Linked DNA regions of Homo sapiens: all the other regions are linked to region 3. Evidence: fine-mapped expression QTL. A gene starts in region 3. Each other region holds a variant in brackets. All regions are shown on one strand. Distances are from middle to middle. Region 1 overlaps CNR2 (cannabinoid receptor 2). Region 2 holds the start of LOC105376860 (a long non-coding RNA gene). Region 3 holds the start of HMGCL (3-hydroxy-3-methylglutaryl-CoA lyase).

What was found. PIP is the estimated chance that this variant, and not a neighbour inherited with it, causes the effect. A credible set is the group of variants that fine-mapping cannot tell apart.
Region 1: its variant is the best candidate, but not a certain one, in a credible set for the expression of HMGCL in whole blood (TOPMed, PIP 0.87).
Region 2: its variant is the best candidate, but not a certain one, in a credible set for the expression of HMGCL in whole blood (TOPMed, PIP 0.62).

The regions. Positions count from the first base shown.
Region 1 is chr1:23,874,002-23,884,978 of GRCh38, reverse strand. It overlaps CNR2 (cannabinoid receptor 2), which reads left to right. Exons shown (of 2, transcript NM_001841.3): 2 at 9,317-10,977. The coding sequence starts at 9,362. The coding sequence ends at 10,444. It also overlaps the pseudogene LOC124904841. Among named protein-coding and RNA genes, the nearest start is that of FUCA1, 11 kb to the right of the region's middle. The variant G/A (reference allele first, on the strand shown) is at 4,306.
Region 2 is chr1:23,791,745-23,797,014 of GRCh38, reverse strand. LYPLA2 (lysophospholipase 2) reads right to left here. Exons shown (of 10, transcript NM_007260.3): 2 at 4,255-4,358; 3 at 3,976-4,007; 4 at 3,799-3,864; 5 at 3,263-3,310; 6 at 3,085-3,155; 7 at 2,879-2,952; 8 at 2,690-2,791; 9 at 2,415-2,588; 10 at 1,476-2,333. The coding sequence starts at 4,332. The coding sequence ends at 2,283. GALE (UDP-galactose-4-epimerase) reads left to right here. Exons shown (of 12, transcript NM_001008216.2): 8 at 73-139; 9 at 233-318; 10 at 429-506; 11 at 750-864; 12 at 1,008-1,416. The coding sequence ends at 1,066. It overlaps LOC105376860 (a long non-coding RNA gene), which reads left to right and starts at 3,483. Exons shown (of 2, transcript XR_947067.3): 1 at 3,483-3,543. The variant G/A (reference allele first, on the strand shown) is at 1,904.
Region 3 is chr1:23,822,448-23,833,424 of GRCh38, reverse strand. It overlaps HMGCL (3-hydroxy-3-methylglutaryl-CoA lyase), which reads left to right and starts at 7,996. Exons shown (of 9, transcript NM_000191.3): 1 at 7,996-8,069. The coding sequence starts at 8,010. It overlaps LOC105376861 (a long non-coding RNA gene), which reads left to right. Exons shown (of 3, transcript XR_947068.2): 2 at 7,242-7,341; 3 at 7,837-7,885. RefSeq lists an enhancer at 7,127-7,995.

The DNA of each region.
Region 1 (10,977 bases), 52 kb before region 3:
AACACAAAAAATTAGCCAGGCACAGTGGCAGACGCCTGTGATCCCAGCTACTCGGGAGGCTGAGGCCGGAGAACCGCTTGAACTCGGAAGGTGGAGGTTGCAGTGAGTTGAGATCATGCCACTGCACTCCAGCCTGGGCGACAGAGTGAGACTCTATCTCAAAAAAAAAAAAAATTGTTTTTGAGCACCTGCTATGCAGCAAGCATTGTGCTGAGCCACTAAAGGTCCAGAAATAATAAAGCCTTAGTTCTGACCTCGACCAGCCGTGTGGCCTCAGCCCAATGCTTTAACATTGCCGACCTTTTATTATCTGTGAAATAGCAATAAGCATAACTCTAATATCATAGAGTTGCGGGGATTAAACTAGATGGTCAGCTGGGCATGGTGGCTCACACTTGTAATCCCAGCACTTTGGGAGGCTGAATCGGGTGGATCATTTGAGGTCAGGAGTTCGATACCAGCCTGGCCAACATGGTGAAACCCCGTCTCTGCTAAAAATACAAAAATTAGCTAGGTGTGGTGGTGTGTGCCTGTAATCCCAGCTACTTGGGAGGCTGAGGCATGAGAATCGGTTGAACCCAGGAGGCAGAGGCTGCAGTGAGCCGAGATCGCGCCACTACACTCCAGCCTGGAATCCCAGCACTTTGGGAGGCCAAGGCGCGCAGATCACTTGAAGCCAGGAGTTCGAGACCAGCCTGACCAACAACCCCGTCTCTACTAAAAATACAAAAATTAGCCAGGCATGGTGGCAGGTGCCTGTAATCCCAGCTACTCGGGAGGCTGAGGCACAAGAATCGCTTTAACTCGGGAGGCAGAGTTTGCAGTGAGCCGAGATTGTGCCACTGCACTCCAGCCTGGGCGACAGAGTGAGACTCTGTCTCAAAAAAAACAAAAACAAAAAAAGACATAAAGATGTCTATAGAGAGGCACAGATTTTTCCTTTTGCCTCAGGCAAGGCTCGGTTTTCAACTCCAGTCTGGGGAAAATCCCTCCAGATTCTCTAAAATGTTATATTCCTGCCTGCAAGTTCTCTTCACTTTTATCTACTCATAAATCCTCTAAACTCTCCTTAAGGATTAGGCTTTACAAGGGATTGGCCCAACACTGTGGGGGGTTTTTTTGTTTTTGTTTTTTTGTTGTTTGTTTGTTTTTTGGAGATGGAGTCTTGCTCTGTCACCCAGACTGGAGTGCAGTGGTGCAATCTCAGCTCACTGCAACCTCCGCCTCCCGGGTTCAAGCGATTCTCCTGCCTCAGCCTCCCAAGTAGGTGGGACTACAGGCGCACACCACCATGCCTGGCTAATTTTTTGTATTTTAGTAGAGACAGGGTTTCACCGTGTTGCCAAGGCTGGTCTTGAGCTCCTGAGCTCAGGCAATTCGCCTGTTTCGGCCTCCCAAAGTGCTAGGATTACAAGCATGAGCTACCACGCCCGGCCTAACACTGTTTTTAAGATTCATCATTGTTGGCACGTTTTCACCACTTTGTGGTATTCCTTCGTATGGCTGTATTACAACTTATTTATCCATTTTCCAGTTGATGGACATTTAGAATTGTTCTTCTATTTCAAAAATGCCAAAGAGAACATTCTTGTACATGCCTCCCTGGACGCACCTGCAGGAGTTCCTCCAGAACGTATTCCCGGGACTGCAATTGATGTATCGTCAACTTCACCAGATTTTGCCAAGCTGCTCTTCAAAGTGTCTGTGTCAACTTACACCCCCATCGCAATGAGAGTTCTTTTGGCTCCACGCCTTCTCCAGCACTCAGTATTGTCAGCCTTACTTTTTTACCGATCTGATGGGAGTGAAACACATTTCTCTGTCTACTATTGAGGTTACGCATCTTTTCAAAGGATTATTGACCATTTCTCTCTCATGCCCTGTATTTTTCTTCATTGTGGTTGCTCTCCTTTTTCCTTTAGTAATCTTGCCTGTGGTCATCTATTTTATAATCTTTTCAAACAGCCAGCTTTGACTTTGTCAGTTCTTTCTCTTCCCTATAGTTTTGCCATGTCATTAATTTCTGCTCTTATTATTTCTGTCTTCTGCTTTCTTTGAATGTATGCCATGGCCCTTCTTCTAATTTCATGAGTTGCATGATGAGCTCATGAGGCTTTTTTATCTTGTAGTATGAGCGTTTATTATTAATTTATTTATTGAGAACAGAGTCTCGCTCTGTTGTCCAGGCTGGAGTGCAGTGGCACAATCTTGGTTCACTGAAACCTCCGCCTCCCAGGTTCAAGCGATTCTCCTGCCTCTGCCTCCCAAGTAGCTGGGATTATAGGCACCAGCCATCATGCGGGCTAATTTTTTTTTTTTTTTTTTTTGTATTTTTAGTAGAGGCGGGGTTTCACCATGTTGGCTAGGCTAGTCTGAAACTCCTGACCTCAGGTGATCCACCCGCCTTGGCCTCCCAAAGTGCTGGGATTACAGGTGTAAGCCACCGCACCTGATAGTATCAGCATTTAGAGCTGTAAATTTCCCTTTGCATACGACTCAGATGAATCTCACACATTTTAATGTCTCACAATTTCGTAGTCATTCAATGCCAAGTATCTTCTAATCGCCTTTATGAATTTTTGACCCAGGAATTGTTCAAAAGTGTGTCTTTTTTTCTTTTTTCACACATCAGACTGGTAACGTGACAATGTCATCATAGGTTTGAGGAACATCTCACACGTGAGCGTGAAAACCAGTCATCACGCTTATGAACTACGAAGGGATCCCGAAGTGTGTTTTTAAAGATCCATACCTGAGGCCAGGCACGGTAGCTCATGCCTATAATCCCAGCACTTTGGAAGGCCAAGGTGGGCAGATAACCTGAGGTCAAGAGTTCGAGACCAGCCTGGCCAGTATGGTGAAACCCCATCTCTACTAAAAATACAAAAAATTAGCTGGTCGTGGTGGCAGGCACCTGTAATCCCAGCTACTTGGGAGGCTGAGGCAGGAGAATCGCTTGAACCTGGGAGGTGGAGGTTGCAGTGAGCCAAGACTGCTCCACTGCACTCCAGCCTGGGCACAACAGTGAGACTCCATCTCAAGAAAAAGATCCATACCTATGAACTTTGTTAGTAATTTTTTTTTTTAAAGACAAAGTTTCGCTCTCGTTGCCCAGGCTGGAGTGCAATGGCACGATCTTGGCTCACCGAAACCTCCGCCTTCCCAAGTTCAAGCGATTCTCCTGCCTCAGCCTCCCGACTAGCTGGAATCACAGGCAGGCACCACCATGCCCAGCTAATTTTTTGTATTTTTAGTAGAGACGAGGTTTCTTCACGTTGGTCAGGCTGATCTCGAACTCCCTACCTCAGGTGATCCGCCCGCCTCGGCCTCCAAAGGGCTGGGATTACAGGTGTGAGCCACCATGCCCGGCCTAGCAATTTTTTTTTTCTTTTTTTGAGACAGGGTTTCACTCTGTTGCCCAGGCTGGAGTGTAGTGATGCTCATTGCAGCCTCCGCCTCCTAGGTTCAAACGATTCTCCTGCCTCAACCACCTCAGTAGCTGGGATTACAGGTGTGCACCACCAGGCCTGGTTAATTTTTGTATTTTTAGTAGAGATGGGGTTTATTAGAGACAGGCTGGTCTCAAACTCCTGGCCTCATGTGATCTGCCCGCCTCGGCCTCTCAAAGTGTTGGGATTATAGGCATGAGCCACCATGCCCAACCAGTAATTTTTTAAAATTATTATTATTACATATATTTTTTGAGACGGAGTCTCACTCTGTCACCCAGGCTGGAGTGCAATGGTGTGATTTTGGCTCACTGCAAACTCCGCCTCCTGGGTTCAAGCGATTCTCCTGCCTCAGCCTCCCGAGTAGCTGGGATTACAGGTGCCTGCCACCATGCCCAGCTGATTTTTGTATTTTTAGTAGAGATGGAGTTTCACCATGTTGGCCAGGCTGGTCTCTAACTCTTGACCTCAGGTGATCTGCCCGCCTTGGTCTCCCAAAGTGCTGGGATTACAGGTGTAAGCCACCACGCCCAGCCTTAATTATTAATTTCTAAATAAATTTTATGTGGTCAGAATACAATTTTATACAACAGATCATTTTATATTAATTTATATTTATAATTATATTTAAATTATATGTAATATGTTAATTTATATTTAAATTACATATATAAACTATAGGCTGGGTGTGGTGGCTCACATCTGTGATCCCAGCACTTTACGTGAGGTCAGGAGTTTGAGACCAGCCTGGCCAACATGGTGAAACGCCATCTCTACTAAAAATATATATATTAAAAAAAGCCATGCCTGGTGGCAGGCACCTGTAATCCCAGCTACTCAGGAAGCTGAAGCAGGA[G/A]AATCACTTGAACCCTGGAGGCGGAGGTTGCAATGAGCCAAGATCGCGCCATTGCACTCCAGCCTGGGTGACAAGAGTGAAACTCCATCTCAAAAAAATAAAAACTAAAAATAATACATTTTATATATTAGAAGGTGATAGTGGTATGGAAAAAATAAAGACGAGGTCAGTGTAAAGAAAAGCAAAAGAGCTGGAGGTTGGGCTAGGTGCAGTGGCTCATGCCTGTAATCCCAGCACTTTGGGAGGCTAAGGCGGGCAGATCACGAGGTCAGATCAAGACCAGCCTGACTAACACGGTGAAACCCCGTCTCTACTAAAAATATGAAAACTTAGCCGGGCATGGTAGTATGCGCCTGTAGTCCCAGCTACTCGGGAGGCTGAGGCAAGAGAAAGGCTTCAACCTGGGAGGCGGAGGTTGCAGTGAGCCGAGATTGTGCCACTGCACTCCAGCCTAGGTGACAGAGTGAGACTCCGTCTCAAAAAAAAAAGAGTTGGAAGTTGGGATGAGTTAGGGTATTACATGGGGTAGTCAGGGTAGGTGTCATTGAAAAAGTAAGATCTGGGCAAAGACTTAAACAAGGTGAGAGCAAGCCAAGTAAATGTTGAGGGAAAGGTGATCCAGGAAAAGGGAACAGCCAGTGCAAAGGACCTGTGGCTGAAGAGAAGACTGATTAAGAAGCCAATGTGGCTAAAGCTGGGTCACCAAGGGAATCATGGTAGAAGGGACCATAACACTAAGGACTTTGGCTTTTACATAGTGGACTAGGGAGCTATGCAGGGTTTGGGACAGAGAAATGACAAGATCCTATATTTTTAAAGGATCACCCTGACTGCTATGTTGAAACTAGATTAGAAATGGGCCTGATTAAAAGCAGGGGGCCCAGTTAGGAAGCTATTGCAATAAACCAGATAAGAGATGATGCCTGGTTTTTTTTTTAAGCCTAAAATTAATCAATGTCTTTACCCACTTCCTAGATAAAGCTTTAACTCTATTCATCTCTTTCTTGTCTTGCATTTTTGTCATTCACAATTTTATTTCTACTTTGTTTTTGTTTTTGTTTGAAACAAGGTCTCATTCTGTCACCCACACTGGAGTGTGGTGGCACAATCATAGATCACTGCACACTGGACCACCTGGGCTGAAGTAATCCTTTGACCTCAGCCTCCCAGGTAAATGGGAATACAGGCATATGTCACCACGCCTGGCTAAATTTTTATGTCTTGTAGAGATGGGTTTCACCATGTTGCTTAGGCTGGTCTTGAACTCCTGGGCTCAAGCAATCCTCCTGCCTTGGACTCCCAAAGTGCCAGGATTTCAGGCATGAGCCACTGTGCCCAGTCTCCACTTTGGTTTTGTTTGTTTGTTTTGTTTTGTTTTTTGAAACAGAGTCTCACTCTGTCACCCAGGCTGGAGTGCAGTGGCATGATCTCGGCTCACTGCAACCTCTGCCTCCCAGGTTCAAGCAATTCTCCTGCCTCAGTCTCCTGAGTAGCTGGGACTACAGGTGCACACCACCACGCCTGGCTAATTTTTGTGTTTTTAGTAAAGATGGGCATAAATTACTCACTATTATCATTGTTGTTTTATAAAGCCATTTGCTTTTCTTTACTCATATTTGTCAACTTACTTGCTCACTATTCTTTCTTGCCGTTCTTTTCTTCCCTTTGGGTTGAATTTCCTTCTAAAATGCACATTCTTTAGATGTTCCTTCAGTGAAAGTCTGTTAGTGAACAATTTTCTTTGAATTTTTTAGACCTCATTCTTGAATGATAGTTTAGCTGGGTATAAAATTCTAGACTGACAGTTTTTTCTTTATTTTTTGGCTTCTATTGTTGCTGATCAGAAATCTGCTCTTAAAATTAATTATGGTTCTCTTACAGGTAATTTGGCTTTTCATTCTTACTGCCTTATATTTTTCTTTGTCTTTGGTATTCTGATATGTATGCTATATGATATACATGAACATGGAATGTGTTTTTAAAAATTCTACTTGGGGCTGGGTGTGGTGGCTCACGCCTATAATCCCAGCACTTTGGGAGGCCGAGGTGGGCATATCACCTGAGGCCAGGAGTTCAAGCCCAGCCTGGCCAACATGGAAAACCCCTTTTCTACTAAAAATACAAAAATTAGCTGGGCATGGTGGTGCACACCTGTAGTCTCAGCTATGTCAGGAGGCTGAAGCTGGAGAATCACTTGAACCTGGGAACTCTGTCTCAAAAAAAAAAAAATTCTGCTTTGGGTTCCCTGTGATTTCCAAATCTGAATAGTCTTATTTTTCATGGATCCTGAATAATTCTTTTTTGTTGTTGAGGCAGGGTCTCATTCTGTTGCCCAGGCTGCAGTGCAATGGCATGATCATGGCTCACTGAAGCCTTGGCCTCCCTGGGCTCAAGTGATCCTCCCACCTCAGCCTCCCAAGTAGCTGAGACAATAGGCATGCACCACCATCCAGCTAATTTTTGTATTTTTTTGTAGAGATGGGGTTTTCCCATGTTGCCCAGGCTGGATGGATAATTCTTTACTACTACCTCTTTGACTATTGCCCACCACCAGTTTTCTCTGTTTATCCTCTCTAACACTCCTCTGAGATATAAACATTTTTACTCAATCCTTCATAACTCTTAACTTCTCTTTCTTGTTTTCCATCACTTTATCTCTTTGTTCTGCATTGTGAGAAATTTCTTCAGAGCTACATTCTTTTTTTTTTTTTTGAGATGGAGTTTCACTCTTATCGCCCAGGCTGCTGTGCAGTGGTGCGATCTCAGCTCACTGCAATCTTTGCATCCGGGGTTCAAGCGATTCTCCTGCCTCAGCCTCCTGAGTAGCTGGCATTACAGGTGTCCACCATCGTGCCCGGCTAATTTTTGTATTTTTAGTAGAGACAGGGTTTCATCATGTTAGCCAGGCTAGTCTTGAACTCCTGACCTCAGGTGATCCATCACTTCAGCCTCCCAAAATGTTGGGATTACAGGCGTGAGCCACTGTGCCCAGCCCCAGATCTACTTTCTTTTTTTTTCTTTTTATTTTTTTTGAGATGGAGTCTTGCTCTGTTGCCCAGGCTGGAGTGCAGTGGCGCCATCTCGGCTCTCGGCTCACTGCAAGCTCCGCCTCCCGGGTTCACGCCATTCTCCTGCCTCAGCCTCCTGAGTAGCTGAGACTACAGGCACCTGCCACCATGCCCAGCTAATTTTTTGTATTTTTAGTAGAGACGAGGTTTCACCGTGTTAGCCAGGATGGTCTCAATCTCCTGACCTCATGATCCACCCACCTTGACCTCCCAAAGTGCTGGGATTACAGGCGTGAGCCACCGTGCCCGGCCACCAGATCTACGTTCTAGATCAATGCTTTTCAGTTGTTCTGTTTTGCTCTTTAACTCATCCCTTAAGGATCTCTTTTTTCAATGATTTTATTTTTGACTTCCAGAAATTCTACTTGAATCTTTTTCAGATCTACCCAGAAACAATCTCTCATTCTGTACTCATGTTTTTAATTCTTTATTGTTTTTATATCAGACTTTTTTTTTAAGGTATACCCAAGAATTATATGAAGTTATTGAAAGTGGAATTCTACTGTCTGACGTTTCTGCTGACTCTTGCTCATGTTTCCTTATGCATTTTGCATTGTGAACTCAAATTTCACGGGCCTTTATATGTGGTATTCCTATACAACCTGTTTAGAAAGTGAATCGCTCCAAATAAATGTTTAGTTTGCTTTCTAATAATGTCTAATAATAAACCGTACAATATCTAGGTTCCTGAGGGTTTTTTCTTCAATATTTGTGACATATACTAAAAAGTTACTTCTTATTGACATTCATCTTTTTTTTTTTTTTTTTTTTGAGACAGAGTCTTGCTCTGTCGCCCAGGCTGGAGTGCAATGGCACAGTCTCGGCTCACTGCAACCTCTGCCTCCTGGGTTCAAGCAATTCTCCTGCCTCAGCATCCCAAGTAGCTGGGACTACAGGCACGTGCCATCACGCCCAGCTAATTTTTTGTATTTTTAGTAGAGACGGGGTTTCACCATGTTAACCAGGATGTTCTCGATCTCCTGACCTCATGATCCGCCTTCCTTAGCCTCCCCAAGTGTTGGGATTACAGGCGTGAACCACCGTGCCCAGCCAACATTCAAATTTAACTGGACTCCTATATTTTATCTAGTATAAAATGTTTTGGCCAGGCGCAGTGGCTCATGCCTGTAATTCCAGCACTTTAGGAGGCTGAGGTGGGTGGATCACCTCAGATCAGGAGTTCGAGACCAGCTGGCCAACATGGTGAAACCCGGTCTCTACTAAAAGTACAAAAATTAGCCAGGTGTGGTGGGTGCCTGTAGTCCCAGCTACTTGGGAGGCTGAGGCAGGAGAATCTCTTGTGCCTGGGAGGCAGAGGTTACAGTGAGCCGAGATCACACCACTGCACTCCAGCCTGGGCAACAGAGCAAGACTTTGTCTCAAAAATAAATAAATAAATAAATAAATAAAAATTAAAATAAAATAAATTGTTTAATCTTCTGTACTTTCTCTTCCCATCACTTGATGTTAAGCCAAATTCATAAATCCCATCCCCAAATAGTTGTTAAAACTTCAGTACTTTACTTGCCGAAATTGGCAAATTAACAAAACAAAATGTAAAACAAACAAAAAAACCCTCAACCTTATCACTCTAGATTCCATTTCTTCTTGGTTTTGATTTCCTCTTGGTTTTGACCTTTTGGGATTTCCCTTGCTTCAAAAGGAAGTCTTAGGATTAGTCTTTTGGAAAATGGAAGGCCAAAAATCTCACAAGTCACTTCTGCTTGTTGCATTCCCACGTACCTCCCCTGAGGCAGCCAGGACAGATCTGGCTTCCTGCTTGGATGGAGAAAGGGCAAAATACAGGCAAACAAAACAGAAACTGATTTTCCCACATAGAATCCATCCATACAGGTAGCAGTTTTGGCTACAGTCAGTTATCAGGTGAGGTCATTCTTGTGCTTACTGAAAAAGATTATTTTCTTCTTCTCATTGTACTGCAGCAAAGCCTTCTAGACAAGCTCAGTGGAATCTGAAGGGCCCACCCCATGGAGGAATGCTGGGTGACAGAGATAGCCAATGGCTCCAAGGATGGCTTGGATTCCAACCCTATGAAGGATTACATGATCCTGAGTGGTCCCCAGAAGACAGCTGTTGCTGTGTTGTGCACTCTTCTGGGCCTGCTAAGTGCCCTGGAGAACGTGGCTGTGCTCTATCTGATCCTGTCCTCCCACCAACTCCGCCGGAAGCCCTCATACCTGTTCATTGGCAGCTTGGCTGGGGCTGACTTCCTGGCCAGTGTGGTCTTTGCATGCAGCTTTGTGAATTTCCATGTTTTCCATGGTGTGGATTCCAAGGCTGTCTTCCTGCTGAAGATTGGCAGCGTGACTATGACCTTCACAGCCTCTGTGGGTAGCCTCCTGCTGACCGCCATTGACCGATACCTCTGCCTGCGCTATCCACCTTCCTACAAAGCTCTGCTCACCCGTGGAAGGGCACTGGTGACCCTGGGCATCATGTGGGTCCTCTCAGCACTAGTCTCCTACCTGCCCCTCATGGGATGGACTTGCTGTCCCAGGCCCTGCTCTGAGCTTTTCCCACTGATCCCCAATGACTACCTGCTGAGCTGGCTCCTGTTCATCGCCTTCCTCTTTTCCGGAATCATCTACACCTATGGGCATGTTCTCTGGAAGGCCCATCAGCATGTGGCCAGCTTGTCTGGCCACCAGGACAGGCAGGTGCCAGGAATGGCCCGAATGAGGCTGGATGTGAGGTTGGCCAAGACCCTAGGGCTAGTGTTGGCTGTGCTCCTCATCTGTTGGTTCCCAGTGCTGGCCCTCATGGCCCACAGCCTGGCCACTACGCTCAGTGACCAGGTCAAGAAGGCCTTTGCTTTCTGCTCCATGCTGTGCCTCATCAACTCCATGGTCAACCCTGTCATCTATGCTCTACGGAGTGGAGAGATCCGCTCCTCTGCCCATCACTGCCTGGCTCACTGGAAGAAGTGTGTGAGGGGCCTTGGGTCAGAGGCAAAAGAAGAAGCCCCGAGATCCTCAGTCACCGAGACAGAGGCTGATGGGAAAATCACTCCGTGGCCAGATTCCAGAGATCTAGACCTCTCTGATTGCTGATGAGGCCTCTTCCCAATTTAAACAACTCAAGTCAGAAATCAGTTCACTCCCTGGAAGAGAGAGAGGGGTCTTGGCACTCTCTTCTTACTTAAACCAGTCCCAGACACCTAGACACGGACCCCTTTTTGCTGATGAGTGTTGGGACTGACTCCTGGAAGACAGCCTGGCCTTGCCCACCTGCACACAGTCTGTTGGATAGGTAGGGCCACGAGGAGTAGCCAGGTAGGCGAGACACAAAAGGCCTGGGACAGGGTCAGTACAAGTCAGGTCAGGCTTCATGCCTGCATCCTCCAGAGACCACAGGAGCCAAAGCGAGCCTCCAGGCCCAGCAATGAGGGACTTGGGAGAAATCTGAGAAGAATGGGTTGTTCTCTTGGGAAGTCAGGGTATCAGATGGGATGGACATCCAGGTCTTCTCTCTGCCTAATTGTCAAGGCCTCCTTGGCTCTGGAGCTATGAAAGGCCCCACTTTCAAGTCACCCTTGCCACTGAGGACCGAGGACTATGCTATGATGAGGATTAAGGTGTTGACT
Region 2 (5,270 bases), 34 kb after region 3:
ACAGAGGAGTGGCCCTGGGGTTAAAGCTGGTGCCTGGGATCTGGGACGAACTGACCTGATCTCCACCTCCAGGTGGCGATCGGGCGACGGGAGGCCCTGAATGTCTTTGGCAATGACTATGACACAGAGGATGGCACAGGTGAGCCTAGGACCAGGGGGACCTAGGAGTGGGAGCCAGGAAGGAGAGTCAGGGGGAACAGACTCCCCATCCAACACACTCCCTTCTCTGCAGGTGTCCGGGATTACATCCATGTCGTGGATCTGGCCAAGGGCCACATTGCAGCCTTAAGGAAGCTGAAAGAACAGTGTGGCTGCCGGGTAGGAAGAGAAGGGAGAAGTGAGGGAGGGGAGGGACCAGATCCAGGCAGAGCGGCCCAGAGGCGTGGTCAGTCCAGCCCGCTCCATAAACCCTGTTCTCCGTGGGCCAGATCTACAACCTGGGCACGGGCACAGGCTATTCAGTGCTGCAGATGGTCCAGGCTATGGAGAAGGCCTCTGGGAAGAAGGTAGGCCCCCCCGCCCCACCCACCTCACCCACCTCACCCCACCCAGCTCTCAGCAACAGAGCAGCTTTGGCCCTTCCCACTCACCTCTCTGGAGGGTACCTGGCACTGCCCAGTCTCCTCAGCCTGCCTAGCACCCGGTGCCTGCGGGCCAGCCGCTGCTCTGCACTTCTGCTTCTTAAAGACCTGGCCAGCAGCTGGGCCAGGGCCGGCTCAGCTAAGCTCCAACTACCTCCTGTCTTGCAGATCCCGTACAAGGTGGTGGCACGGCGGGAAGGTGATGTGGCAGCCTGTTACGCCAACCCCAGCCTGGCCCAAGAGGAGCTGGGGTGGACAGCAGCCTTAGGGCTGGACAGGATGTGTGAGTGCTGGCCTGACCCCTGCAGTTAGGGGCCAGGGAGGGGCTAAATCAGATCTGGGCATGCCCACCCAGGGCGGGCTGTGGGGTGGGGGAGGCTCTGCATTCCACCGTGGGCCCTGAGCACACACCTCGCCGTGTTGCAGGTGAGGATCTCTGGCGCTGGCAGAAGCAGAATCCTTCAGGCTTTGGCACGCAAGCCTGAGGACCCTCCCCTACCAAGGACCAGGAAAAGCAGCAGCTGCCTGCTCTCCAGCCTCTGGCAGGAACTCAGGGCCCTGGAGCTGCTGGGGCCAAGCCAAGGCCTCCCCTACCTCAAACCCCAGCTGGGCCCGCTTAGCCCACCAGGCATGAGGCCAAGGGCTCCACTGACCAGGAGGCCGAGGTCTCTAACTCTTATCTTCCACAGGGTCCAAGAGTTCATCAGGACCCCCAAGAGTGAGTGAGGGGGCAAGGCTCTGGCACAAAACCTCCTCCTCCCAGGCACTCATTTATATTGCTCTGAAAGAGCTTTCCAAAGTATTTAAAAATAAAAACAAGTTTTCTTACACTGGGGCAGGTTCTCACAGATGGTCACTATCCACCCCTGGAATAGAATCAGCCAGGCCTGAGCGTTGAGGAAGCAATTTCTTTAATTTTATCGGAATCCAGGACACAACAAGAAAAACACCCAAAAACCACATGGAGACAGAAGACGAGACACAACTCCTCCCCCACTGCCTCCCTGCTCTAGAGTGGGGACAAAGTGGGGGTGAGACAGCTGGGGGGAGACCTGAACCTCAGTCCAGCCCTACAGGCTCCAGGCCTGCAGGGAAGGAGGGTAACGGGGAGGCAGGGCCCAGCCCCCCAGTGTGGGGAAACAGCTGAGGGAAGGCCCCCCTCAAAAGGCTCCACCTCCTCACCAGCACTCCTGCCCAGGGACAGGGAGCCCACAGCAGCAAGGGGACCCCGGGGCCATGGCCACATTCATGACTGAGAAGCAGCTGAGTGGAGGCAGGAGACACGATTATCTGGGCAGAATCAGTTGGGGCAGGGGCCTGGG[G/A]GGGCCCCATGGGCCAAACCCTGAGGTCACAGGAGGGGGCCCAAAGCGGGGCTAGTGAGTGAGGTCCTGAGTGAGTGGGTCAGCGGCTGGGCCCCTTTCTCCAGCTGCCTGTAGCCCCTCCAATACTGCTGCCAGGGGGGCCCGCCTCCAGGGAAATGGATAAGAAAGCAGCCTGCCCCTGCTGCAGACAGAGCCAGGTGGCTAAGGCCAGGAAGGAAGGCCCGGCCAGGCCTTGCCACCTGCCCCCAGAGGCCTGTGGGAAAAGGACAGGTCAGGAAGGGTGGGGACAGGGGCTCGACCGGCTCAGATCCAAGATGGTGCCACGCTTGCTTGCTGAGTCCCCCATGAGCTGGGGTACTGCACTGGGGCCAGCGACTAGTTAGACAGGAGGCAGCAGCTTCTCAAGAAATTCCTTCACAGCTGCCATCTCCTGAGGGGATTAAGAGGGGATCACGAGAGGCACCTGGCTGGAGGCAGAGAAGTGGGAGTGGGAAATGGTCCCCCCACTGACCTGAGGACAGGAGCTGTGCATGACACCCGGGTATGTCTTGAACTGGACCCTGGCAGGTGTGACAACAGACCGGAGCTTCTCAGCCGTCAGGGCCCCAAACCGTACGGGCACCATGGGGTCCAGCTCCCCATGGCACTGGAGTATGGCCAGGTCCTTGGCACTGCCATTAGCTGCCTGGAGGCCGGACAGGACTCAGGGCAAAGCTAGTGCTGCAGCAGTCCCCAAGCCACGAGGATGCAGACACAAAGGGCGGGGGGGTCAGTGGGGACATTCACCTGGGGGAAGGCCCGGTGCAGAGGCAGCCAGCAGCTCAACGCCACGATGCCAGCCAGAGGGTGGGGGCAGGTGAGGGCCGTGTAGAGGGACAGGGCCCCGCCCTGGAGGGAGGAGAGAGAGGGGTCATGAGGGCACAGCTCACTCACCGGCCACCCCTACCCCCTACCCCCCCACCCCTCTCCCCTCACCTGTGAAAAGCCTCCCAGGACGATTCGATTGGCAGGGATCCCGTTCTTCATTTCATGCTCAATCAAGGCCTTGACTGGGGGAGGGGGCATGAGTGGGTAGAGGGAAGCTGCCAAGGGGCCCAATAAGGGAGCTAGGCTGAGGAACCGCCCAGCGCTTTCCTGGGGGGCAGGGGAAGGAGGATGTGGAGGAGGGGCTGGGGTCTTACTGTTCTCTGCTGCCTTCTTGATGCCAGCCTCGTCCTCTGGGGCATCTGGACTCAGCCCCATCAGGTCAAACCTTGGGAGTAGAGGCACTGGCAGCTATAGAAAACCCCAGCCAGCCCCCTGTGGCTCCCTCAGCCCAAGTGTCCTCGTCCCCCTGCCCACCCCCACTCCCAAACTCACCAGGAGGGCATCACCATCTTCATGTTGAGGGTCACAGGGATCCTAGGCCTGGGGAAAGAGAGCCAGAGGGCCCATCATGCTCAGGAGGAATGAGGAGGCCAGAGCTCAGAGCCCGGAGTGGGGCCGCGCCGCCCCTGGTGGCCCCTCCCAGCAGGCAGGGCCTGTGTTTAAGGTGTTGCCAGGCAACCTGCCACGTGGGGCTGGAGGCTGTGGTTGGGGCAAAGCGCCAGTAATGGAGAAGCAGAGCCCAGCGCTTGGTGTGACGGGGTCCCAGGTAGTCGGTGAGTACTTGGGGAAGGGGCAAAGGGAGGTGTGGGTTCTAGGAGAGCTCAGGTCTAGGAGGCCCTAGGGCTGGGGGCTGGTGCTGGACCCCACTCCTGGGGGCTCCACAGGAGCTCAGGCTGAAAATGCCACTTCTGACTGCCCTGAGCCCAAGCCCCAGGATGCAACTGACAGGAGAGAACAGGCCTGGGATGACAGGACCACCCCCAGATGATCCCCAGCCTCAGCCCCTCCCTTGCTGGGGTGACACTCACGCATGGGGACAGATGTACTTGACGTGAGGGAGCCGGATGGTGGAGAGGGCGTCAGCCCAGCTGTGCCTGTAGGAGGGACGGGAGAAAAGGCTCCGATGTGGTAGGAAGAGAAGGCCTCTCCAGTCCGCTGCTGGGCCAGGACCCCTCCTTAAGGAGCACCCCTCCTCAGTCACTTACCCTGTGTCTCCAAGTCCATGTAAAAAAATAACCTGGAAAAGGATGGGAAATGGGGAGACAGGAAGGCTTCCCCTAGGTCCTCCAACTTCTGCCCACCCCTCCCCCACCCCCAAGGACCTGGGGGAACCCAGGTAGCAGCCAAACAGGTTACTACCCCGAGCCTGCTGGCCTCAGGATACTCCCTGCTCATCACTGCCACCTCCATTTTCCCACACCCCCTCCAGCCGGTCCTCCAGCTGCTCCCACAGTGTCTGGCCGTGGGTGAAAGGGGACCCTTACCGCGGCCGTTTCCCGCTCAGCTCCAGACACGGTGGCAGCATCGGTGAGCAGGGGCACAGACATGGTGTTACCACACATACACCACACGGCTCCACGGCGGGGGCCTGCATACATCGGGGCGGCGGTCAAGAGCAAAACCAGGCACAGGACACACTCCTGGCCCAAGAGGCCACCAGGCCATCAGCCCCACACAGCACCCAGGTTCTGTCCTGGGCACAAAGAATAGTCAAGCAAGAAGTCCCAGGGCACAGGAGAAGAAGTCTGCCTCAGTTCCAGGGCTGAAAGGCAGAGACAGCCTCCCTAGTGGCCCAGAACATGTGTCTCTGGTTCTGGCCCAACCACAGGACCTGAGCTTGCTGGAGACAGGCAGAGGCAGGGCATAGGGACTGTAGGGCAGGGGGCAGAGGGGAGGCAGCGGCACGCCTGCTTCATTCCCCCTCTAACTCCTCAGGGGTGAGTGCCTTCCCCCTCCTCTCCAATCATCCCTGGGTCCCTGCCTCCCCAACTCCGGGCCCTATGGGAAATGGAGAGAAAAGTGCCAGGGAAAGGAGCTTCCATCCCCTACTCAGTGCCGCCTCCAACCCCCATCTCAACCTCCCCCCACCCAGCCCCCATCCAGCCTTCACAGCAGTTTCTGGCCCATCCATTCCCAGACCCCCAGGGGGCTGCCCATGTCCCCAGAAAGCGTAAGAACTCCACCCACCCCCAAACTGGTGCTCCACGCCCCCCCTAAACGGAGCTACCTGCTGCTGCTGCCACTGACTGCAAACGAGCCCTGGCTTGACCACGCTCTGGGACTCCCAAACACACAAAAGAATGTCAGGCTGGCTGGCCCCTCCCCATCCTCGGCGTCCTCCAAACTCGCCGGAAGCTTCCACTACCTGCCTCAAGTGCCTGCCCACCCCTCCCAACTGGCCTCACCTTCCATCTCTGACCCCTGAGGGCAGCTCCCCACAATGGGATCGTTCACCTGTGACCCGGGGTTCCTCTTCCCATGGGGAATGCACCTCCTGCCC
Region 3 (10,977 bases):
AGCCACTGTGCCTGGCCTATAATTTCTATTTTGATTTTTTCTTTGACCCATGAGTTAGGGTTTTTTTCCCCATACTTTCCAAGCATAAAGTTATGTCTAACTTAATTGCTCTAACTTGAGTTTTCCATCAGAATTGTGTAAACTGAACCAATTGAGATGTCTATGGTGTTGGCTACTGTTTGTGCTGTTAATTGTCGGTCCTCTTCAATTAAGGCACAAACAAGATGAGTTTATTCCCCAAAAATTGATGTGTATGACCTGCTGCTGTGGGCTTCATTTTCAACATAATCTCATCTCTTCTTAAAATGAGTTATCCAGTTGGGTATGGTGGCTCATGCCTGCAATCCCAGCATTTTGGGATGCCAAGGTGAGAGGATCACTTGAGCCCAGGAGTTCAAGACCAGCCTTGGCAACATAGTAAGACCCTCATCTCTACAAAAAATACAAAACAAAAAATTTAGCTGGGTATGGTGGCATGTGCCTGTCATCCCAGCTACTTGAGAGGCTGAGGTGGGAGGATCACTTGAACCCAAAGGCTCAAGGCTGCAGTGAGCTATGATTGTGCCACTGCACTCCAGCCTGGGTGACAGAGAAAGACCCTGTCTCAAACACACACACACACACACACACACACACACACACACACACACTTATCCATTTGTCATTAATTATGGTTAATTAATAGGATATACATGTCACCAATTTTTTGAAATTTGCTTTATGGACCAGAATATCATAAACATTCATAAAAGTTGACACTGACTAAGTTCCACTACTGTAAAAAGTCTGCTATTGCTCTCACAGGATTTGCAGAAAGGCAGATGTTGGATTTAAACATTATTATTCCCACTTGCAGAAGAGATGTCATCTGCTTTTAAGGAAAAGCTATAAACAGAAATTTGCTGTTGTGCATTAGAAATGCAATCTGAGGCCAGGCGTGGTGGCTCATGCCTGTAATTTCAGCACTTTGGGAGGCCGAGGCGGGTGGATCACCTGAGGTCAGGAGTTTGAGACCACCAGCCTGACCAATATGGTGAAACCCCGTCTCTACAAAAATTAGCCAGGTGTGGTGGTGGGCACCTGTAGTCCCAGCTATTGGGGAGGCTGAGACAGGAGAATTTCTTGAACCCAGGAGGTGGTGGTTGCAGTGAGCCAAGATCACGCCACTGCATTCCTGCCTGGCGACAGAGCAAGACTCCGTCTCATTAAAAAAAAAAAAATTAAAAAGAAAAAAAAAAGTCCTGGGAAAAAAAACTATTACCATAAAATCTGAAGGTCTGAGAAAGGTGCACAGAATTGTGGTGAATCTTATTTACTACTGCGGTCTTAGCACCTAGCACCAACTTGTGCCTTAATCACAGCAGCCATCTCTTTTAGTAATTTGGAGAGAAAGGAAGAGGAAAGAGGGAATAGTGTTATCATGTAGCAAAGAAAGCATTCTCTAGAGTCAGATTTGGGTCTGAACTTACCTACCATACATGATCTTAGAAAAGTTATTTAATGTCTCTTAAGCCTCCGTTTCCTCATTTCTCAGATGGAAAGAGTAACATTTATGTTGCAGAGTCTGATTACTCATGAAAAGTTACTATATATCACAACCAATACAGAAAATATACTTAATAAATGGTAGGGGCTATTGTTAATAATTATTGTAAGCTTTGTAATTGAGGGTGGGTTACAATGCAAAAAAGGAAACATCTTGGTTAAAATAAGATTCCAACTAAGGGTGACCCTGAGCAAAGTCTGTAACAGTTGCTAGTGTTACTCTTTCAGTATTTACTTCATGCCACCAAATGTGCCTGGTATTGGAGACACCACATTCAACAACCAGTTAAAGTCTCTGCCCTTTAGTTTAGACATTTGCCTCAGAGCTGTGCTTGTAAGTTATTTACTTTTGAGAATTTGCCAACAAGGGCTTTTAGGGGGGCAAACAGAGGAAGGAGAGAAGCCTCGTGTCTGTGACAATTAGGAGTAGTAGGGACTGGGGAGCTGGCAAGGGTATGCCTTGCCTAAGTCTTTTTTTCTTGTGCAGTTACTTATTTTTTTTTATTGTTTAAAATATATATAGCATAAAGTTTACCATTTTAATTCAGTGCCATTAAGTACATTCACATTGTTATACAACCATCTCCACTATCCAGAACTCCTTCATATCCCAAACTGAAATTCTGTACCCATTAAACAATAACTCCCAATTTCTTTCCACTCCCAGCCCCCAATAACTACTATTCAACTTTCTTTCTCTATGAATTTGACTATAATAAAGTCCTCATTGTAATAGTTAGGATTCTCCAGAGAAACAAAACCAATAAAAGATGATATATAGGCCGGACCCAGTGGCTCACGCCTGTAATCCCAACACTTTTGGAGGCTGCTGGAGCACCTGAGGTTAGGAGTTCAAGACCAGCCTGGCCAACATGGTGAAACCCCGTCTCTATTAAAAAAAAATGCAAAAATTAGCCAGGCGTGTTGTTGGGTGCCTGTAGTCCCAGCTACTCGGTAGGCTGAGGCGGGAGAATCGCTTGACCCGTGGAGGTTGCAGTGAGCCAAGATCGCGCCACTGCACTCCAGCCTGGGCAACAAGAGCAAAACTCTATCTTAAAAAAAAAAAAAAAAAAGATATGTATATGTATGAAATATGATCTGCTGTCAGCAAGCTGGAGACCAAAAAAAGCCAGTGAGGTGTAGCTCCAGTTGAAGCCCAGGGGCCTGAGAATGAGAGGAACCAATGGTGTAGTGTAAGTCCCAGTCTGAATGTAGAAGAGAGAATTCTTCCTTCCCCACCTTTTTGTTCTATTCAGGCCTTCGAAGAATTGGATGATGCCCCCCACATTGAGGGAGTAATCTGCTTTACTCCCTTTACTGATTCAAATGCTAACCTCATTCAGAAATGCCCTCACAGACACACCCGGAAATAATGTGTAGTCAAATATTTGGATACCCTGTGGCCTAGTCAAGTTGACACATAAAATTAACCATCACACCCACATAAGTGGAATCATGAAATTTGCCCTTTTGTGTCTGGCTTAGCAGAATATTTTTAAGGTTTATCCATGTTGCAACATGTGTCAGAATTGTATATCTTTTCAAGAATGAGTAACTATTGTAGGTATACAATATAGCACATTTTGTTCATCCATTTATCTGTTAATGCACATGTGCGTTCTGTACGCCTTTTGGCCATCACAGATAATGTTACTATGAGCAACATTATTGCTCATTGTGTTAGACAGGGTTCTCCAGAGAAACAGAACCAATAGGAGAGTTTTTATATATATATATATATATATATATATATATATATATATATACACACACACACACATATGCATATATAATAAGTATATTATATATAAATATACTATATAAAAATATATAATTATAAATAAAATAAAATATAATATATTTATTATATAATTTGTTATATAATAATTTATAAGTATATATTATATATTAATATATTTAAAATTATATATGTAAATTTATATATACATAAAAGCTACTCAGGAGGCTGAGGTGGGAGGGTCACCTGAGCCCAGGGAGGTGGAGGCTGCAGTGAGCTGTGATTGCACCACTGCACTCCAGCCTAGGTGACACAGTAAGACCCTGTCTCAAAAAAAAAAAAAAAATTAGGCTGGGCGCGGTGGCTCACACCTGTAATCCCAGCACTTTGGGAGGCCAAGGTGGATGGATCACTTGAGGTCAGCAGTTCGAGACCACCCTGACCAACATGGTGAAACCCCATCTCTACTAAAAATACAAAAATTGGCCAGGTGTGGTGGTGTATGCCTGTAATCCCAGCTTCTCGGGAGGCTGAAGCATGAAAATTGCTTGAACCCAGGAGGCGGAGGTTGCAGCGAGCTGAGATTGCACCACTGCACTGCAGCCAGGGTGATAGAGTGAGACTCAGTCTCAAAAAAATAAATAAATAAAACAAAAATAAAAACAAACATTACCATATGATCCAGGAATTTCACTTCTAGAAATATACTGAAAATAATTGCAAACAAGGAATTAAACAGATATTCACATACCAATAATGTTGCTATGTTGCTCATAAATATATATTCTTGTATATACAGAATATAAATATATATGTATATTTATAAATAAATTTATATTCTATACATTCTATATATAAATATATAAATAAATATATTTATATTCTGTATATACAAGAATATGTATTTATGAGGAACATAGCAACACTATTGGTATATGTACATATGTTTAAGTCCATGTTTTCAATTATTTTGGGTATATTCCTAGAAGTGAAATTCCTGGATCATATGGTAATTTTTATTTTTATTTTTTATATTTTTTCAGACAGGGTCTCACTGTCACCTAGGTTGGAGTGCAGTGGTGCAATCACAGCTCACTGCAGCTTCCACCTCCCTGACATTTTAACAATATTAAGTCTTCTTGGCTGGGTGCTGGGACTCACATCTTTAATCTCAACACTTTGGGGCACCAAAACAAGAAAGATCACTTGAGCCCAGGAGTTCAAGACCAGCCTGGGCAACATGGCAAGACCATTGTCGGCCAAAAAATTTAAAACTTAGCTGGTTGTGATGGTGCATGCACCAGTGGTCCCGGCTACTCAGGAGGCTGAGGTGGGAGGATGGCTTGAGTGCAGGAGGCTGAGGCTACAGTGAGCTATGATTGCACTATTACACTCCAGCCTGGGCAAGAGAATGAGTGAGACCCCATCTAAAAAAAAAAAAAAAAGGCTGGGTGTGGTGGCTCACGCCTGTAATTCCAGCACTTTGGGAGGCCGAGGAGAGCGGATGACTTGAGGTCAGGAGTTTGAGACCAGCCTGGCCAACATGGTGAAACCCCGTCTGTACTAAAAATACAAAAATTAGCTGGGCGTAGTGGCAGGTGCCTGTAATCCCAGCTACTCGGGAACCTGAGGCAGGAGAATCGCTTGAACCCGGGAGGCGGAGGTTGCAGTGAGTCGAGATTGCGCCTCTGCACTCCAGCCTGGGTGACAGAGTGAGACTCTGTCTCAAAAATAAATAAATAAGTAAACAAACAATAAAATAAATAACAATAAAAATAAATTAAAAATTAAAAAATTCAAAGCAAAAGCAAACAAACTAAAAAACAGTATTAAGTCTTCCAATTCATGAACATGGGATGTCCTACCACTATGTCTTCTTTAATTTTTTTCACCAATGGTTTATAATTTTCAGTGTACAAGTCTTGAAAGACATATTTTAAATAATACCATGCCAGTATGTTTGGGCCGAGTGCAGCCCTCTAACACAGGTTTGAGAATTCTGTGAGTAATGCTCCCAGTGTCATGATAGAGAAAATTTCCAGTGCTGCTGAAGCCTAACAGAATAATTATCATGTCTTGTTTTTTCCCTAGATAAAATCTGAGCTCCTTAAAGTCAAGGAAAGTGCCTTCACTGCCTTCCCTGAGAATACCAGACACACAATTAACATCCAACCAGTAGCCCCTGTGACTATTTAAAAATGCAAATTCAATCAGATTTCCCTACTCTAAATCATTCAAAATCACTGCTATTAGGACAGCTGGTATTAGTGTGTTCACCAAAGCCCTGTGACAGTTCCTGCCAAACTCTCCAATCTTAGTAGGAAGTCCCCTTCCTACTCCCTCCCCGCTCTCCAATCATTCCAGCCTTCTTTTCATCTTGCTAAAAAGGTGTTTTCAAACAATTCCAAGTGCAGCCCACAGTAAGAAATTTATTTTACATTGCAACCTTGTTGATATATATAATGAACAAAAGTTTTGCAAAGCAGTACTTGGCTTTACTACTTTTATACATTGTATTCTAATATTTTTCTTATTTATTATTATTATTTATTTAGTTTTTAGACAGAGACTCGTTCTGTCACTCAGGCTGAAGTGCAGTGGCGTGATCTCGGCTCACTGCAACCTCCGCCTCCCAGGTTCAAGTGATTCTCCTGTCTCAGCCTCCTGAGTAGCTGGGATTACAGGCACGCACCACCATGCCCAGCTAATTTTTGTATTTTTAGTAGAGACGGGGTTTCACCATGTTGGTCAGGCTGGTCTCGAACTCCTGACCTCAAGTGATCCGCCCACCTCGGCCTCCCAAAGTGTTGGGATTACAGGCATGAGCCACCACACCTGGCTATTTTTCTTATTTATTGAATAGACTTGGGGTCTCACTTTATTGGCCAGAGTGGTCTTCAAGTTCTGACCTCAAGTGATCCTCCCACCTCGACCTCCCAAAGTGCTGGAATTACTGGTGTAAGCCACTGCACCCAGCCTTTTCTCTTTTATTATTATTTTTATTTTTTTAGATCACTCTTTTATTATTTTATAGAGCAATATTTTATATTTGGGGCCTGGCACAGTGGCTCACGCCTGTAATCCCAGCACTTTGGGAGGCCGAGGAGGGTGGATTGCTTCAGCCCAGGCCAACATGGTGAAATCCTCCATCTCTACTAAAAATACAAACATTATCTGGGCACGGTGATGGGCACTTGTAATCCCAGCTACTCCGGAGGCTGAGGCAGGAGAATCGCTTGAACCCCGGGGTCAGAGGTTGCAGTGAGCCGAGATCACGCCACCGCACTCCAGCCTGGGCAACACAGTGAGACTTCGTCTTAATAAATAAATATAGATGGATAGATAGATAGATAGATAGATAGATAGATAGATAGATGATAGATAGATAAAATTCTAGTTCTTTGTTTTAAATAAAGTTTGTACCCACTAAATTGATACTGTGACCAATTAGTGGGGTACAACATACAGTTTGAAAACAGTGCTCTGGCCGGGGGCGGTGGCTCTCGCCTGTAATCCCAGCATTTTGGGAGGCCAAGGCGGGCGGATCACCTGAGGTCAGGAATTTGAGACCAGCCTGGCCAACACGGTGAAACCTCGTTTCTACTAAAAACACTAAAATTAGCCAGGCGTGGTGGTGCACACCTGTAATCCCAGCTACTCGGGAGACTGAGGCACGAGACTCTCTTGAACTCGGGAGGCGGAGGTTGCAGTGAGCCGAAATCGCGCCACTGCACTCCAACCTGGGTGACAGAGTGAGACTCCATCTCAAACAAACAAAACAAACCAACAAAACAAAAGAGAGAAAAACAGTGTTCTCAGCATTTTCTTTGCCTCAGGGCCATTGCGAATGCTACACCGTCTGGAAAGTTTTTCTTGTATCCTCTTCACCTGGATAGATTTTTTTTTTTTTCAGCCCTTCAGAAAGTACACCTAGATAAATCTTAATCATTTTTTTAAGGTATGAAATCTAAGGATGCCCCCTCTCTGGAGCTGCCTGCCTGTGTTTGAATCCTGAAGATCGTGATGCGTGAGTTAATCCGTGCTAAGAACTCGGAACAGTGAGTAGCAAATCGTTGCTTCTTATAGTGCAAGTTAGAAATGACACAACTGTTTGTGTAACTATTAATATGTGTCTCCTCACACCTCCCACACTCTAAACACAAGAAGCCACAGAATTTGGTTAATTTCTTTTCATGTTTTTGTTTGTTTGGTTTTGGGTTTTTTGTTTTGGACAGGCTCTCACTGTGTCGCCCAGGCTGGAGTGCAGTGGCACGATCTCCGCTCGCTGCAACCTCGCCTCCCGGGTTCAAACAATTCTCCTGCCTCAGCTTCCCAAGTAGCTGGGATTACAGGCGCCCACCACCACGCCCGGCTTTTTTTTTTTTTTTTTTTTTTTTTTTTTTTTTTTGGATTTTTTGGAGAGACGGGGGTTTCGCCATGTTAGCCAGGCTGGTCTCGAATTCCTGACCTCAGGTGATCTACCCGCCTCGGTCTCCCAAAGTGCTAGGATTACATGGTGTCCAGGCTGATTCTGTTCATCTTTATATTCCTAGCGTCTCACTTGGCCTGGCATGGAAGAGGCGCTCGGAATCAAAACGGAGAGAGGCTGGGGGTGGAGCCAGCTTCGGAAGTCACGGCGGAGGGGCGGGGGCGGGGCCGCGCCCACCAGACGAGCCATCGGTCACGCGGGGCCCAGCTGGACTGCCGCGGGGGATTCTGGGCCAAGATGGCAGCAATGAGGAAGGCGCTTCCGCGGCGACTGGTGGGCTTGGCGTCCCTCCGGGCTGTAAGTGCCCCGAGCCGCCGAGGCGGCGGCCCTGCAGGCACTCTGACTGTCAGGGTTGGGGGCTTGGCCCGTGGTGACTGCTCTCTTAGAGGCGAGGCCGGACAGCTCTCAGGCCAGAGTCGGGAGGGCGTTGGAGTCCTGGACCCTCCCTTTTCCCCTCAAATCCTTTGAAGGGGATGGGAAAACTGAGGTCCGGAGAGGTGGAGTGACTTGTCTGGGTCATGGAGACCTGGGACGCCATCCTAGGTGCCCTGATTCCCCGCCCAGGGCCCTTTCCGATGACCCTGGCCCCTTTCTCCCTCTAATTGAACTTCAGACCTCTCCAACTCTTCATTAGTGAAAATCAAGAACACGCTTCCATTTCCTTCGTCTCCATTTCCAACTGTTGTTGCTTTTAGAGATGCTTGGGGAACTATCCCAGCCTACCGAGCGGGACTTGCGTTGATTGGAGCCAAGCTGTGATTCCCTTGGAATTGCACTTTGATCCTGTTCGATCCTGATGTTTTCCCCTCTCCCATTCTCAGCGCAGAAAAAGTGTGGGAGACGTAGCTGTATGGAGCAGAAAAAATAAAAGCTGAAGCTAGGGTGTCCCAATAGTTCTGCCACTTTCTAGACTTAATGACATAGTTATTTACTTTCTCTAAACCTCAGCTCTTTCGTCTGTAAAACGGACAACATTCCCTTGGGGTTGTTTTGGAAATTAGAGAAAATGTAAGTAACACATCTGGCAGTGTTCTGGCTCCTAATAAGTGATCAGTCGGTGGTGGTATTTTTACCTTAGGGAGTTGAGAAGGAGTTATAACTGTATAGAGGGAAAAATACACTCCTGGCACTGGGTCCCTCTCAGAAAGCCACGTTAATATCTTTACTTGGCCATTCACCTGCACCACCTGCTCATGTGTAAAATGAAGATGGCAATTCCAACTTGGAAAGTTAAACGCAATAGTAGATATTAATAAGCTTTTAAGAAATATTTGGTGTAATGAGATGGCCCTCCATGGGGTTCCAAGCATAGGAACCAGTATTAGTATTAGGCCTAGATATGGGTTCAAGTCCAAGCTCTGTCACTTTCTAATTGTGATTTTTGGGTAACCTTTCTGAGGCTTAGTTTCTTCACCTACGGAGTTGGGATAATAATAGTCCCTGGCCTGTAGTTTAACACTGGGTTTAGTCAGTATTCGCTGTTGGTGTTGATGCAGGTACACCATACCTCAGGACACTGTGGCACAGTACTTGTGTGGTTAGGGGGACCCTCTCTGAGCAGAGCTTTACAGAGGAGGAACGGGATGTTTAACCAGGAGAAGACTGTGGACCGAACGAACGGTGGTAAAGAGGCAACAGTGGCCCAGAGGTTAGGAGCTTGTGCTCTAGAGCCACACTGCCAGGTTTAGATATTGCCTCAGTGAGTAACTCCCCATGTCACCTCGGGAAGATTACTTAATCTCTTTGGGTCTCAGATTTCTTTTCTTTTCTTTCTTTTTTTTTTTCCTGAGACGGTGTCTTGCTCTGTCATCTGTCACCCAGACTGGAGTGCAGTGGCTCAATCTCAGCTCACTGCAACCTCTGCCTCCCAGGTTCAAGCGATTCTTCTGCCTCAGCCTCCCAAGTGGGGCCTTAGATTTCTTACAGTAAAATGGGGATGATGATAGTTCCTACCTGATAAGATTGTTGAGAGGACAGTATGGGTTAATATGTAAATGGCTCACCAGGCGTGGTGGCTCATGCCTATAATCCTAGCACTTTGGGAGGCTGAGGTGGGTGGATCACTTGAGGTCGGGAGTTCGGGACCAGCCTGGCCAACCTGGTGAAATCCTGTCTCTACTAAAATACAAAAAATTAGCCAGGTGTGGTGGTGCGCACCTGTAGTCCCAGCTACTCGGGAGGCTGAGGCAGGAGAATCACTTGAACCTGGGAGGTGAAGGTTGCAGTGAGCCAAGATCGCGCCACTGCTCTCCAGCCTGGAGACAGAATGAGACTGTATCTCAAATAAATAAATAAATAAATAAATATGTAAATGGCTCTTGTATGTGCCTGGCAAATATTAAGTGTTTAAAAACTGAATTATTATGTGAAGAGCTGTTACGGGGAAGGAAGGAAGTGGAATTGAGTTTATAATGTTCTAATAAAAGCAGCTTGGAAGCAGGTTTTAGAAGCTTTTTTTTTTTTTTTTTTTTTTGAGATGAAGAAGTCTCGCTCTTGTACCCCAGGCTGGAGTACAATGGCACGATCTCAGCTCACTGCAACCTCCTCCTCCTGGGTTCAAGCAATTCTCCTGCCTCAGCCTCCCGAGTAGCTGGGATTGCAGGCACCTGCTGCCATGCCTAGCTAATTTATGTGTTTTTAGTAGAGATAGGGCTTCACCATGTTGGCTAGGCTGGTCTCGAACTTCTGACCTCAGGTGATCTGCCCACCTCGGCCTCCCAAAGTGCTGGGATTACAGGCGTGAGCCACCACGCTTGGCCTGAAGCAGGTTTTAGATTATTTCAGCAACACTCAACTGTTATTTATCGAGCCCCTATTATGTCCCAGGGCCTTAGAAATACAGCATTGAATAAAACAAAGTCCCTGTCTCATGAAACTTATGTTCCAGTGAGATAGTTTTAGGGTGATATACTAGCAGAGGCTGAACATCCCTGTTGGAGGGAGATTCAAGTTGCAGGGACCTTCCAACTTAGCCTGTTGACGTCATGAAATTCAATGGCTCATCGCCTTAGTCTCTAAGAAAGCTTGTTGGCTAAAACAAGGCCAGTCAGGTGAGTTGTACATGTTCCAGCTGCTTCCTAGCAGGGAATTCCTGGGGGACTTCAGGGGGTTGAGATCCTTAGCGGATCACACAGTGTGCCTTCCGCTTTGCCTCGTTGTAGTATATTTATCCAGATTAAATCTGTAAAACAAAGTTGATTTGAAA